Regions from separate parts of the Homo sapiens genome. Here region 1 is reported to be linked to region 2. The links are microRNA targets in miRTarBase. Many come from high-throughput screens and were not tested one by one. Region 2 holds a microRNA gene; the other region holds the end of a gene's coding sequence.

Region 1 (7,998 bases), not on the chromosome of region 2:
GTGGTTAAAAAATGCCAAATGCAATTATACTGACTTATAATTATTTCACAGAAATATACTCTTACTCTCAGACTATTTAAATAAGCAGGAACAAGATGCAGGAGAAGCAGCAGCAGAGAGGAAAGAGGAATAGCCAGGGAATTTTTTTTGTTTTTTTTCTTCTTTAAAATACATACGAAGTGTAAAGAGAAAATGGCCAAAACCTCAAAACTACCATTGTTGAAAACAATATTAAAAGGACACAATCTAAAATCATGCTACAAAAATAGTGTTATCTTGTTTAACTAAATGTACATCTTTTTTTCCAATTCCATGATTGACAAGAGTGCTTATGCGACGCATGGAAGGCACCAGAGGTGAAGTGATTATTTGCCTTAAAATATACAAAGAATTGCCTACTTTGAAAAAAAAATAGTCATACTTGTAAATAAATAGTTTAGTGTTTCTGCCATGGGTTCCTGAACCCCTACAAATTTCAACATATACAAATAGTTTCAATTCCTACCATTCTCTTAGAGGGAACCACGTCAAACAAAATCAAGTTAGGAAAAGCACTGATTTTATCCAAGTAGGTCAATTTGAGGCAAGATTCAAAAACTCATTTTAAAATGGGTTACAGAGTGAAAGAGTTGGGAACAGGCAGCCCCCTTTGGGCCTGGGTCAGCCTACGAGTCCATCCCAGGTGTCCTGCCCTCACATCTGCCAGCCCTCAGGCCGGCCAGGTCTCCCTTCAAACCCTGAGTATTTGCCTTCCTCACTTCTGCGAAGAGGGGAACAGAATCTTGAAGCTTGCAAAATCGATTCTGGAAAAAGCAGGCAAGCAAAGCAGGGCCTGTGGGGGGAAGCAGCGTGAGTCAGGCCTCACCCTGGTGCAAGGGCACCAGCAGGTCTCCCTCCTCTCCCCTCCTCACCATCCCTACGCGTCTCCTCACCATCCCTACGCGTGACTGACTTTCCTGATAAAAATGGGATACTTCCTACTGGGTGTCAGCACTGTCATCCTAAGGCAACTCAGACGTGATAGTTTTAGACTATGATCAAATCTCACACAAACCATTATCAGAATCTTGTTTCACACCATCTCTCTTTTCAGGCAGTTATGAAAAGAAACTCTGACCTGGCCCTAAATCCCATCAGCAAAGCTGACTAAGGTGGTCTGAGATATGTTCTTACTCCTAAACTCAAACTTTAAAAGTTTCAATAGCTCCCTGGGGGTCCAAGCCAAAGGCTCCCTGGCCTTTGTGTATTATGCATCCCAAAGAAAACACGCCACCCCAGGTGTCTAGATAGCAAGTCACCTGAATTAAAGCCTCAGCATAAAAAAACAAACATAGACAACAAACTTACCCTATGAAATAGATACACAGTTCAAGGACCCATCATCTGAACTTTTCTAGGCAAGTTGCCAGTGATTCAAACTCAGCAGGTTTGTGGGTGATTTTTTCCTTACTGTTACGTTTGTGGAGTAGGAAAAACTAGAAAGGAAAAAAAAATCCCAAAGGTTGAAAAACTGTATCCAAATGGAAAAAGAATATATTCCAGACAAAAGAAGGGAAAATACAATAGGACCCACTCCGCTTCAAGCTAAAGAGTGTACAAAATGCCACTCACTTGCATGAAGAAGAATTAAACAGAACATTCACTTTCGGAAGAAAATTTTTCTAGACCTAACAGATATTGACGGTATTTTCTCTCACAGTTTCTAAATAAAAGAAACATAAAAGGTCAAATATTTTAAATTACTTTCTCAACCAGACAGTTCTTGTGACTTGAATGATATCTGCTGAGAAGAGAAGAAACACAAGATTCTACAAAGCGCCAGGGAAGTTTACAAAGCTAAAAGCTGAGGGTGTCAGGCCTGCGTCCTGTCTGAGATGGCAGCCAAGCCAGCTTCAGAGTCACCTGCTGGACCCACATGTTCCTGAGCCAGATGCCAGGAGCTCACCCACAGGACGGGAAAGACCTGTCCCCAGCATCCCACTCTTGCCCTCAAGCTGACTGTGGAACGCGAGACAGCTTTCAAAGACAAGAGGACAGGAAGGCAGTTAACAAAGTACACGTTTCCAAGACAGCCTGAGCTGTCTAGTGCTGATAGCAGACAGGTGGGGTGTTCCAGGCCACTGCTTCCTCCCTTATCTCCCAGACCTGGCCGTGTGTGGACCTCACCAGCCTACCAAGCTGTTGGGCCTGGACGTGGGTGCTGATAAAATAAGACAAACCTGGAAAAAACCCTGGATTCTGCAACTTCACTAGGAAATAACAAGGCACCTAGAGACTTCACAAGCTAATGGCAGTCCCTGGAGCAGGAAGCAACTTGTTATTCTGCTCAAGAGAATCCACCAGCAGCTCTTGGCCTAGAAACTTTTTCCCCTTTCTGATACCTGTTTAACGTCATTATTACTCTGTAAACAAGATCTGGAGAAGATGACAGTCAGGCAGTGGCACAAAGACTTCATGACTGTTTTGTTTTGAACACAGATGAGACAATAGGAACCCTTAAATCATCACTGCCTTGCAGAATCACTAAATTGTTCAGGTGTCTCCATGCTCTATTCATCTCCTAGGTGCTAAGACCAACCCACAGAAAATCTGGCACAGAAAGGGATTAGACCTCAGTCCACCTCTCAGAGCACATGGATAGGTGACGGGTTTCTCATGTGAATCTACAAGAAAAGGTACGCCTGGGCCACACGCAGGACATGGCACCCACTAGGGTTGTTCAGGTCTCATTCACTGCAAGCAAGAATTCACGTACATGAGTGCACAAAGGTGTTGGAGCTTGGTCTCCTCAGGCTTAACCCAAGGCTGACTCACTAGGACAGCTTCCAAGAACCACAGATGTAACTGCAAACTTGAAGAGAGTCAGAATGTTTTCAACTGAGTCACGAAGCTGTCCCAGAAGCACCCGACATAGGGTGGAGGTCAGACACATTCCCTGGCTGCCCACAGGCGTGAGCCTTCCTGCCAGGGGACAGTAACAGGGCCCGAAGGGCTGGGGGTGCCGCTGGCTTCCCAGGGCCAAGCGCTCAGAGCTGGGCCGGACTTGCCCATGCTGGCTTCAGCTCACATTGCCAAGGAAGATGTGTATTGGGGCTGTGCAGGCTGCCACATTCTTGCTTTTTCTGTAGACAAAAGTCACCTCCCTCGGATGGCTGTTTACTTCAAATCAAACTTCTCTGACGAGATTTTAATCTGAAACTGCATCTGTTCTTCCCAGCTTTATGTGGGGCCAACAAGTATCTCCAGCCTTTCATGACTGTAATCCCTCTTTAAGGCAGGGAAAACATATTTCCCTCCCATGCCTTCAGCAGTGTGAAAGAAGGATATCAAAGAGAATCAGAGGGAAAAAATACCAAATCCACCCAATCAGTGCCAAAATAAACTTTCTCTGAGGACATCAGTGTTTGCATCCATCTAAAACCACCAGAGGTTCCACCAAATGCTTGAGGGTTTCAGCTGTACAGTGTCCAGGAAAAAACCCAAATGCACACAGCAACTGCAGTTTCTTCAAGTTTTGCTTTAAATGTGAAAACCAATATCGTCCCACCAGAACACTGAGAAAAACTAAGGTCGCTCAGCCTTCAAATGCCCCAAACCAAACTGATATTGGTCCCTATTGAAACTATTAAACGCAAAAACGCTTCCTTCAATTTGCCAAGAGGTCATTTTAAGGCCCCCAGATATCGATTGTCTTCTGTTTGCATATAGAGGCAATATAAGAAAAATATAGGCGTCTTCATATTCACCTTGGATAACCCTATTCCCTCCAGAACTTTCGTCACCACGTGGTCTATACATGATGACATGTGCAACCACACATTACATCAACTAGAAAGCGTCCATAGCACCACTTCCGGTTCTAGTGGGAGTTAATTAAATACAAGGAGAACATTTACAAAACCACCGAGGAGCCTCACGGCACAAAGGATATTAAATAGTTACAGGGACATAAATAATTCTGAAGAGTCTATCACGAAGATGCAAATTAACTCCTAAGTCACTCTCTGGCGTGTCATCCTTTTTGGTCATTCATCTGCATTTAGTTTCAGTGACTTCAGAACTATTTCTTGCAGCTGACAACATATCCTCAGGAGGCCAACCACCTGCCCCCCTCTTTCACCAGATGATCAAGTGGTTTTACTGAAGTGAGCTGGGAAAACTTGGGCAACAAGCCCACCTGAATGGTGTTCTTGTTTTCAATCTCACTTCAAAGATGGCCTTTTTTGGGGGCCAAGTAACATGATTCCCAGCAGGAGATTTCTGATAAAGCTCAGGATGGTCCTTCCAAGTGGGCCCCATTTAATGCAAGGCTGAGCCTTTGTGGCCCTATTTTAAAAGGAACTCTCAAAGAGAGATAAGCCCAATTTTGACTTTGCAAACACACTCAACAGACCTGACAGGCAGCACACCCAGCTGTGAGCTGGCCTGGCTGCCCTCTCTGTGGGAGCAGAGGGGAGACGAGTTGTTAACAGGCTAGCAGGGTCAGCCCCTGAGGCAGACGTGGTGCTCAGCCACATAGCCTGGGACACTGCTCCCAACTCAGATCGTACTGAAGGTGTTGGTGCAGGAAGCTAACCCCAACTCCGACCCCCAGCCCAGCAGTGTTGCCTGATCAACACTGTGAGCTCAGATGCTGTCCTTTTCTGGGGAATGAGACGCCACATGTCCATAAGGTGACGCTTTCTTGCACAGACCCCCCGCCGCCCCCTCGGAGTTATTTATTACACAGTACGCTGCTAAAGCTGTCAACATTTGTCAGCACTTGATCTTGGGGATTTCTCCATGTTACTGCAAAATCTTCCTGCCACAGTAAGTGCTTTTTGGTGAGGGCTAAACACAAAATGTTAGAGCTAAAGTGAGGTTTGTAAACATTAAAAACAGTTCAAAGAGGGAAAACCTGACAAACTAAAACAACTTTTTTCCATAAAAGATATAATTACTCTCTAATTTTTTAAAAAAACTACTGCATCATGGGGACTCACTGAACTCATTCACCACACACAATAATCTTCACTTTATCAAGAATCAATCAGAAACCTTAAGTAGCTAGGATTTTTCCCCCCAACAACTCCCAAGAATGATGTCTACAGTTATGACACTGAGGCGCCCAAAGCGACAATTAGTGCCTTCTGAAACATGGGTGGAAGGGTGTGTTCTGGTGCAAATTCAAGTATTTTCAAATCCTAGACGAATCTGCTCAGAATCATTTTAGAACTCTTTGCAGGCATTTAGAAAATTAGCACACATCCCTAAAATAGAGGGGTGTGTGTGTGCATGTGTGCGCGCACGCGTGTGCATGCTGTTTTTTAACACAAACACCTCCCACCTGCGGTTCATGAAGCCAGCAAATGGGCAAGTGCTTTGGCTGGTGGAGTAGGCTTGTTTCTTTCATGGCTTTTACCTGAGAAGGTAAAATGACTGAAAATCTGCAATTCAGCCTCAAAGTATTTAGGGTAGGCAGGAAACTGGAAAACAAGATAGTCCCCATAACAAGATGGCCCCCATATTCCTGGAGAAGAATCTGGGGTTCAGGAAGGTGATTCATTTGAGGAAGAATCAAGTGATTTCTCAGCAGAGTAGGAAACAAAAGGTCACCCTTCCTTGAGTCAGAGGTCCCTGGGAGCCATCCTAACAGGACATCAGCTTTCCCCAGCCCTGTGGCCTTTGGGCTGGTGCTGGCTGCCTGGGGGCCCTGGCATGGAAGATGAGGAGTGGGCTGGATCCCAGCACGCAGACTCAACACTGACTTGGAGCAGGTGGTGCCTAAGGCTGCCTGAGAACCACTGCCGACTGACCGTTCCAATGCTGTCCCTTCATTCCTTCATATTTCCCCCCTCTTAGCAGCCCCATTTAATCCAAAGTCTTGTTACAAATACACACGACAAGGTGGCTCAGAGTCAAAGGAAGCCTGTGCTTCAGGGCAGGTAAGACCTCAAGTGGACCTGGGCAGTGACGCCGGCTGCTCCACAGCCCCAAACGCTGAGGAACGTGGGCCTCCCAACTCCACCGCGGACCCGCCCACTGGGCCACTCGGGAAACCCTTTCCCAAAATGAACTTTTACCAAAGAGGACAAAATTCAACTGAATCACATGGAAATCTGACAGGACAAGGGAAAGAAAACTTGACTGAGAGACAGGCACGAGGACGGGAGGGAGGAGGATCCAGGCAGGTCCTCACGTGTCCAGGCGCTGGATCTCAGGGCGACTGTCCACATCCCTGGACTCCGTGCGGGCTCGGATGTAGTCATTGGTGCTCTGCTGGCGGACGCTGACTCTCCATTTCTGCACTGCCAGGAATGTGTTCACTGCATATGCCGCAGTCGCCAAGAAGCCAAATATCTAAAAACACACCAGCACAGTTAGTCCTCGGGCACGTGGCCTGGCCCCTCAAGGCTTCTGTGGTGACCCAAGCCACATGCAGCCCCTTCCTGCTCTGCCAGCTGATCATTACAACCCTGTGCCTTCATTCCTTGATCTCTTCCCCCTCTCAGCAGCCCCATTTGATCTAAAGTCTTGTTTCAAATACATATGACGGGGTGGCTCAGAGTCAAAGGGAAGCCTGTGCCCAGCCCTGCTGGATGTGTGGCTGTCACACCACAGCTGAGTCTCTAGTCATGTGACACACAGAAAATCTTGCCTGACCTAAAGACAGCCTAAGGTTTCTTTTGAAGTATTTTGGACGTATAAAAAAATAAATCACAAAAGTACCTCTTTTACTGCAACTTCAGGGCCTCTGGTCCCAGATGAGAAAATACAGTGCAGACAAAATGTAACATAGACAGAAAATCAGGGTTTCGCATGTGGGTCCCAAATCAAGCCACAGGGCCAATGTTCCACATCACAGCCCCCATCCCACACCTGCCTCTCATGGGGCAGCTCCAAGTAAGCAGCTCCAGAGTAAGAAGCACAGAGTTTTAATTATTAAGACTTACAAATCGCCTGAGTGGCACCTGGGAGAGCAGTTCGTTTAATCATTTATAAACCTTTTAATCCCCCCATTACAAAAAGGATAACTGTTCCTCATAAACTGAGAACAATACAGAAATGCAGGGCATGGAGAGGGGAAGTCCTACATTATCTGGTCCCCACCTGCCGTGGCATTTCCACCTTGAAATGTCATGTGACTGCTAAATGGTGTCATGACTGCATTCAAGAACCCTCCCTTCCCCAGGCAGATAAGGCTCTTAGACATCAAGGACTGTGTTGGAAACGAACCAAAGCAGGGGTTCTTGAACTTGAGAGCACATCTGTATCATCCAGAGGGTTACTTCAAATACATTTCTGACTCAGTAGCTCTGGAGCGGAGCCTAAGGATGTCTAACAGATGCCAAGGCTGCTGTTCTGGGGCCCATACTTTGAGAACCACAGCACTGAAGGGACTGGGACCCCCACTGGCCCAGTAACATCATCTTTAGCAAAGAAAAGCCACAGGAGGGGGAGCAGGACACATGCCAGGGACAGGCGAGCAGGTCACAGGAGGTCCCCAGATCAGCTTGCTTTAACCATTTGAGTTTGCTTACCACGGCAGCAATTTCTGCTCCGGCTCTATGGTTTAAAGCAGCCAGTACGATTGAAGCAATAAAGAAAAGGAAAGCGCTGAGTCCAGTGTTGACCAAATCCTAAAGGGAGAGACAAAATAAACCAAGTGAAAAGAACCATTCCATCTTTGCTCTAAAAGCAACTGGAGAACTTTCAAAATAAGACCCACGATACCCAACCTCCCTGGTGGCTCCATATTTCAGTCTCAATGTCACAGGGTTACTGGTCACACAAAAGAAGGCAAAGTTAACAGTTTATGACACTACTTGATAAATCACCACCACAAAATCTACATTTTCACCAACCCCACTACCCTTTCTGAAGAAATAGTAACCAAAATTGCTAACACTAATTACCATTTAGAGGTCTGGTGCCATCTTTTAAAAACCACACTCAAATCATCTTGCTATGGACAAAGCTCCCCAAGGATCCAAATGTACTAAAACTGGTGAAATCCCT
Region 2 (7,998 bases):
GCTAATCACATTCTCTGTGAGTTGTTTGAATTTTATATCGAGAGACTCACAGACTGAAAAATTTGCTGGAACTAATTCTTTCTAGTGAACACCATGGAAGAGCTAACTGTTGGCACCTGCTACCTCGCTTCCCTGAACTACCCTATTGCTTCTCTAGACTTCTCTTTGTTTCTGTAAGTGATTCAATATCCTTTAACAAGCCCATTTCTTTTGTAGGTTAACTGATGTTTTGGCCTGGATAATGTTCCTTCAAAATACGTATGTTGAAGCTCTAACACCCCCAGTGTGGTGGTATTTGGAGTTAGGGACCTTGGGAGGTAATTAGGTTTAGATGAGGTCACGAGGGTTGGACCTTCATAATGGAATTAGTGCCCTTACAAGAAGAGACACCTGAGAACTTGTTGCTGTCTCTTTGCCATGTGAAGACACAGTGAGAAGGTGGCCACTACAAGCTGAAGAGAGCCCTCACCAGAAACCAATTATGCTTGTACCCTTATCTCAGACTTCCAGCTGATGAGAAAATAAATTGCTGTTGTTTAAGGCACCACAGTCTTTGGTATTTTGTGATGGCAGCCTGGGCTGGCTAGTACAGGTGGGAAGTTTCCACTGCTTCCCACAAAAGAATCTGACTATGCAAAATGACGAATGAGAAGGCATATTTTACCCTGTAGTACCTTGGCTCTGAGATGGGGAAGAAAGAAGGACAAAGGTTAAACCAGCAAATTCAGTGACTTGCTATCATCTCTAGACAGGAAAAGTTTGGTGAATAAGGAAGAGGTTGAAATTATTTCATAGTGTGTGATTTTGGAATTATTTATGGGTTATACTTATTCTTACTCTTCTGTATCTTGTTTGCATATTCCTCATCCCTAACTTAATCATGATTTAGCTCTTACATGGTGAATAAACCAGTGGAAACTTAGAAAATTAATTGGCCCAGGATACCTTTTTCTTTAGGCTGCAGAGCTGGCAAAATGAAAGCATATCCCCAGGAAGTGGTCTGCCAGGAAGAAAAGCTGCACTGAAATGGGCATCTAAATTTTTCCTTCCTACTTGTTTGCTTTGGTCTTAAAGAATGTTTGAAATTCCTACTGCCGGAATTTGTTCATTGGCTCACAGTCACCTCTTCTAATATATGTTCGTCTTTTATTTTTAGAGCTTTGTTTTGATCTATATGTCTCTTAGTTCTCAGAGAAATGCATCCCATGAAATGATTCAGTTCTGAGAAATCAAGCCAGGTAAAGATGAAATGTAAGGCTTTACCAACTCTATAATACTTTTCATCTGCTTTTAAAGATATACACCCTCCCACTAGGATTTCTTGGCATCATCTACATGTTTTCCTATTAGTTACGGACATTTTGAGCTTTCATGGTATCCTAGTTATCACCCCTCTTGTCTTACAGATGAGGAAATAGATGTCTAGAGTGGTAACTGGCTTATCAATAATTATGTAATTAATTTGTGACTAAGTAGGGACTCGAAACCAATTTTTCAGATTTCCAGTTCAGCTTTCGTTCTACTTCCACAAACTGCCAATTAATTGACCAAGCCAAGAGAATAAAAGCAATTCTCATTCATCCCAAACTAAAGAAAAATATGGAAAAGAAGAAATAGAGTTTTCAAAGTATTGAGTTTCATTGAGCAAAAGGGGAAGATTTGGAGCCATGTTGAGGAAAGAGGCAGAGAGGTAATGCTTTCTGGAAGGATCATTTTTAAGCTTACTGCCAGATTGCTTTATTCCCTGGGCATGTGCCTGCATGTTTATTTCATGGGTTAAATGATCCCTTTAAGGTGAATGAAACACTGTCTCATTTCCTTGCAAACCAAAATTTAAATAAAATAATTTTTTCCCTTGGGAGTTTGTCACATTAAATCCACTAGGTTTAAGCATGTGTGTTGAAAACAGGCTAAGGGGAACTGGAACTTCATCTTATTTCTCTAATTGGTGTCTGTGCCTTCTTGCCTTTGGAGAAGTGAACGTTGTCTGGGCATCCTACTCATGTTTCAGCTCTAGAGTGAATGTCCAGGGTCTGCTTGATAACTCTTTTTCTTCCTGGACAACCACGCCCTAGGTCAAGATGGTCTGTTTTCACTATGGGCCAGCTGTTCCAGGATTATTTTTTCAGGGTTGGAAACCACAATTTTGGACTCTGAGCCTGAGAATAAAAGTGTAAAGGAAAAGGTCAAATAACATTTTGTGGGATTATCTGCATTCTATTTGAAAACCAAGGAAGTCTATCTTCAGTGTTTTTTAGTACCCCTACTCTAAACATATTGCTCTAAACAACATATGATGAAAAGTCATAAATATTTAGTAAAAACACACATTCCTCTTCTTTCCTCTAGGCAACAAAAGCAAATATCGAAAAGGAGTAGAACAGTTGGAATTTATAATCTTCCTTCTGAACTAACAGGTACTTCTTCATAACCCTAAGGGGCTCGGGTTCTGGGCCTGGACTCCCAAATCCTTCTGCGTGTAAATAAAAAACAATGCTTAAAGCAAATATTTTAGTGAGGAAAACAACTTTGGAGCCATCCTTACCATAATGGGCTGCTGGAGTTGAGTAATTAGTAGCTATAGCATTTAGGGCAGGGTTTTAGGAAGTCAGTCTCTGTAGTTGAAAGCATTTGCCACGTCATAAGAATTTGTGTCATAAGAATATTCAATGAATTTTTGGAAACAAACAAAAGGAAAGTAATAACCATCAAGCTCAATGATTGAAATTGGTTGTATTTTGTGAAGTTGTTCATTTTTTTCTCCTTGTATTTAGATTATATTTACAAAGCTTTGAGTCCTAAATTCCCATTATTTTTAATAAATATCAATAATAATGTAAGCAAACATTTAAAAGTTAATTAGTAATTGTATCTTCCCAATATGATATATATTTTTGCATAATAGTTTCTAATTCTTTTCATGCATATAGATTTTATAATATTTATAATAAAAATATTTTATATTATGCTTTTTTATGTAACATTCTGTCTTGACATTAAAATTATCCATGTTTTTAGTCTTATTAACAATTGCTTCTTTAAATGACTGATTAATATTTCATAGTATCTATCCTAATTTGCTGACTGCTACTGGCAACTTAGCCTTCAACTTTATTAAAGTATATTTTAGAAATGTAAATGTATATCATAAATAACATTATATTGACATCTTAACATATATACCTTTTTATTTTATTATTCAGTTGAATTACTTTTTCATGAATAAATTCTCAGAAATGTTATAATGGTTAAGATTACGAACATCTTTAGGGTTCTTGCTATTTATTGACAAATACTTTTTAAAGTGTATATAGCATGACTGTATAACTTTCTCTGCAATTTTATGTATATTTGGTATTATCATTTATTTGCTTTAATTTGCATTTCTTTGATTATTAGGCAGATACACATTTTTCTTTGTGGATTTTATTGTTTTTGCTAGTTGTATTTATTTGCATGTGAATTCTGTGGTATCGTCTGGATATTTGATCCACCCAAACTTCATGTTGAAATTGTGGGGCTGCTTAGGTCATGGGGCCAGATCCCTCATGGATAGATTAATGCCCTTCCTGATGAGGGGAGGGAGTTTGTAAGTTCTCCCTCTATTAGTTCCTGAAATAACTGGTTGTTAAAGGGTCTGACACCTTCCTTCTCCCTTTCCTGCTTCCTTTCTTGCCATGTGATACTGCACACACTGGCTCCCCTTCTCCTTCTACCATGAGTGGAAGCAGCTTGATGCCCTCACCACAAGCAGATGCTGGTGCCATGCTTCCTGTACAGCCTGCAGAACCATAAGCCAAATAAACCCCTTTTCTTTATAAATTATCCAGCCTCAACATAAGATGAACTAACTTGTTTAATCTGTTTTACTATTTCTGTAAGGAACAGTACACTTTGACTACTGGATAGCTGGATTACCTATGCTATAGTAATCTTCAGACCAGGAACATTAGAACATTTTTTTCTTAGGTGAGATTTATCTGAAACCATCTCACTACATTTTACATTTAGCAGATGTAACTATTAAATTGGTATAATAAAGAAATTATCCTGCTTCTTGCTGTGCCCTCACATGGCAGAGGGAGAGAGAGCACAAGCTCTCTTGTCTCTTATGATAAAGGTACTAATTCCATCGTGACAGCCCGACCCTCATGTCCTTATCTAAACCTAAATACCTTCCAGAGGCCCCATCTCTAGACACCATGACATTGGGGTTTCAACATATGAATTTTGGGAGAGACACAAACATTTAGTTCTTAACACTCCCCTTCTCCCTCAGGCCACTTCAGTCTACCCAAGTACACAGCCTCCTAATTAAGGGGTACTTGGTGATTCTTAAAGACAGGGGTAAATTTTCATGAACATCTGATCAAGCTTTTTTTTTTTTTAGACGGAGTTTTGCTTTTGTTGCCCAGCCTGGAGTGCAATGGTGCAATCTCAGCTCACTGCAACCTCCGCCTCCCAGGTTCAAGCAATTCTCCTGACTCAGCCTCCCAAGTAGCTGGGATTACAGGAATGTGCCACCACGCCCGGCTAATTTTTTCATATTTTAGTAGAGATGGGGTTTCACCATCTTGATCAAGCTTTTAAAAATTGAATTAATAGGTATAGAACACAATGAAACAAACCAAGAAAGAACAAGTGGAAAGAAAGTAGTTAGAGCACTTAATGTCAAGTTAAATCAATCACTAAGCATAATTTGTCTTGTGGGTATTGATGATGGCATGTGGTATGTGTTGAGATTTAAGAATGTATTTCACAGTGACATGGATGGAGCTGGAAACCATTATCCTTAACAAACTAACACAGGAACAGAAAACCAAGTATTGCATGTTCTCACTTATAAGTGGGAGCTGAATGATGAGAACATAGGGACACATAGAGGGAAACAACACATACTGGGGCCTTTTGGAGGGTGCTGGGTGGGAGGCAGGAGAGGATCAGGAAGTATAATTAATGGGTTCTAGACTTAATACCTGGGTGATGAAATAATCTGTACAACAAAACCCCATGATACAAGTTTACCTATGTAACAAACCTGTATATGTACCCATGCACTTAAAGTTAAAAAAAAACCTATTTAAATGATAGGAAGGCTGTTCTTTACATCTTACAACTCACACATTAACCAAAGAGGAAGGTCCCATTACTGCAGGGATCTTAGCAGTACTGGGACCTACCTCTTTGGTACTTTCCCCTGGGCCCCCTTCATTTCACTCCCTACCCACACTCTTTGTCCTGAGCTCCCACTTACCAAATGGCATCAGGCTTGTTACTCATTTGGCTATTTTCTCTTGTGAGTCAGGAATGATTCAATATCCTGGCAAGGGTTAGGAAGGCTAGTCTTTTTAAAGAGCTCTCTTATAGGTAAATACAAACATGATAACTTGGGTGTTTGAAACCACTTTTAAGTATGTTTTTTACTAATTCTTAAGGTTGAAGAGATATCTTGGGATAAAAAATTGCATTAGTTGACAATTTAAAAAATGTAGTTTGTAAAGTCTGAATAACTCTTATTTGTATATGGTAAAAAGTGTAAATTACAAAAAAGATATACAATGAAAAATGAATTTCCTTCTCATTTCACATCCCTAGTTCTCTCTGTCTCCCCTTCAGAGGCAACCACTACTAATTACTTGCTAGCACCCTTCCACAAACATTCTCTACGTAATCAAACTTCAATATTGTTTATATAGCAACCTTTAAGAATCAATTAGGAACATACTATATACATCTTGGTTATTATTATTTTTAACTTAACCATGTTTTGTTTCTTAGAAATTTTTCTATATCAGCACAAATAGCTTTATCCTATTCTTTTAAATGGCCCTATGATGAGGATATGCCTTAATTTATTAAAGTAGTCCTCTAATAATAGGTATTTAGGTTATTTCTAGTCTTTTAAAAAGCAAACCCCACTGCCTGAAAAGCCTTATATATACATATTCGTGCATTTGTGTGGTTTTGTAAGTATATTTGTAGTATATCTATAGGTTGAATAACAGCATGAAGAGAAATATGATCTTGTAGTGGTTAAAAGCATAATTATTATGGGTTTGACTGCCTGCTACTGGCCTACGACTTATTAGCCATATAACCTAGGACAAGTTACTCAACTTTCTGTACCTCAGTTTTCTTATCTGCAAAATGGGTATAAATAATAGTATATACCTTGAAGAGGTGTTATGGGCATTAAAGGACCTAACAGAAGTACATCATGCTGATATCCACATATAATACATTCTACATAAATTATCTCACTAGGATACTTTCCTGGAAAACAGGACTTTCTCTTTTAAAAATATTAATGCTATCATTGGATGATAACTGTTTTTCTTCTTGAAACTTGACAAAATCTCACTACTAAGCTTATTACAAATACTGATATAATTCATGCTCATTTTGGCTTGAAGGAGATAGTTTGGCAGGGCAAATTGAGAGTAAAGTTCCTGACCATAGGTATAAGTGAAAGTCTGAATTTAGTCTTAATTTGTTTTTGAACATTAGATTAAAGTTCATCATTTTGGACCTCAGTGTCCTTATCTGTTACATGCAGGGATTAGATTAGATGATCCCTAAAGTATCTTCCAGTTCCAACAATTATGTCTGTGCTTATTCCATTCTCAAAATGAGACCTGATTTATGTGGCTTAGACAATTGTGGGAGATAAGTTTAAATCCTGACTCATCTAACTGTGACTTTGCACATGTTGTTCCCTGTGTGTGGAATGACCTTCCCCCTTGTCTGAGTGTTGAGCTGAGCTCTGATTCACCCTAGGAGACTCAACTCTGGCTGGGCCCTCTCTTTAAAACCTTCCCCAAGTGCCCCAGCTGAGCTAGGCACAATTTCCCTTTGAGCTCTCTTAGCCCCTGTGTTATGTGGTAGGATAAGAGTGTGAAGCCTTAACTGATAACTTTTATATGTTATCAGCTTTGGTATTGTATTTTCAATGCACAAAGAAGAGATGGCACTTTCTTTTCTTGGATTGTAAGTTTCAAAAGTCTGGGTCCTATAAGGAATCAAAAGGCCTATGTGCCTAGATAAAATGATGACTGGGATAAATCACCCCCAAGCTTCCATGCTCCAGAGGACAGAAAGTTCTTCAGACAGAAGTAAGCAAAGGTTGAGTTGACACTGTGGATTCCTGACAAAGGAGTGAGACTCTCTGCCTTGTCCTTTCCCCTAGCTCAGCACAGGGAGAAGGAGAGTGACAGAGTTTGCCAAGAGGTATGTGAAATCTGAACACAGAGGGAATCCAGGTTCTCTTTCCTGTGTAGGGCCCAGGGAGGTAAGAGCCCAGAGTAGAAATGGCTGCACAGGGCATCCAGGTGGAGAGACCTGAGGGAACTTGTGAAGTCCCATAGAGCTCAGCATGGCATTGGATCAGAGAACGATATTCTTGTGGTCAGGAGGAGCACGGAAGTGGGAAAGGGAAGAGGATAATCTTGCTGAGTTTCCTGAGGCCCAGTGTGGTGTGAGAGAACAGAATGATCCCATGTACCTTAAAGGGGCAAGGGAGTTTGTTAATAGAGAGCTGGGCCATTCTGTTCAGGGAACATGAACAGAATCAGCAGTAACTTGCCTAGACTGACTACTGAAGACCAGATGGAGGACAACTCAGCAAATAAACAGATGCTCACCCACTCCCAGCCTGCTTCAGAGAGATAGAGGGATCCCAGATCAGCAGATGAAGTCTTTACAGCCTGGAGAAATGGAACTCTTTCTACAGCCTGGAGAAATGGACCTCCATTGTTAAAGTTAAGATACTTTATTAGAATTCTTAAAAATTTAAGTAAAGATGTCTAGCCCTTCTAAAACTTCTCCATTGTAAATGATTTCTTGTTTAAGTCTCTGGATTGCAAGCTCTTTGAGGAAAGGCACAAAGTCTTTATTTATTTATTTATTTTTGAGGCAGAGTCTCGCTCTGTCGCCCAGGCTGGAGTGTAGCGGCGTGATCTCGGCTCACTGCAACCTCTGCCTCCTGGGTTCAGGCGATTC

Evidence for each region. Region 2 holds the annotated microRNA hsa-miR-583 (CAAAGAGGAAGGUCCCAUUAC, at 5,130-5,150, shown strand). A microRNA usually pairs through its seed, bases 2 to 8, with sites in the 3' UTR of a target mRNA and lowers its output. Matches are read on the target gene's strand: a 7mer-m8 pairs with bases 2 to 8, a 7mer-A1 pairs with bases 2 to 7 and ends in A, and an 8mer does both.
Region 1: miRTarBase lists CMTM4 as a target of hsa-miR-583. Seed matches in the 3' UTR shown: 7mer-m8 at 6,064-6,070, 7mer-m8 at 4,885-4,891, 7mer-A1 at 1,586-1,592, 7mer-A1 at 183-189 and 7mer-m8 at 122-128.

Annotation. Positions count from the first base shown.
Region 1 is chr16:66,615,884-66,623,881 of GRCh38, forward strand. It overlaps CMTM4 (CKLF like MARVEL transmembrane domain containing 4), which reads right to left. Exons shown (of 4, transcript NM_181521.3): 3 at 7,521-7,619; 4 at 1-6,339. The coding sequence ends at 6,175. Among named protein-coding and RNA genes, the nearest start is that of CMTM3, 15 kb to the left of the region's middle. RefSeq lists an enhancer at 3,999-4,500.
Region 2 is chr5:96,074,024-96,082,021 of GRCh38, forward strand. MIR583 (microRNA 583) reads left to right here and starts at 5,115; the gene lies at 5,115-5,189. All of the region lies in intron 1 of LOC101929710 (a long non-coding RNA gene), which reads left to right. It also overlaps a transcript of CAST not described here.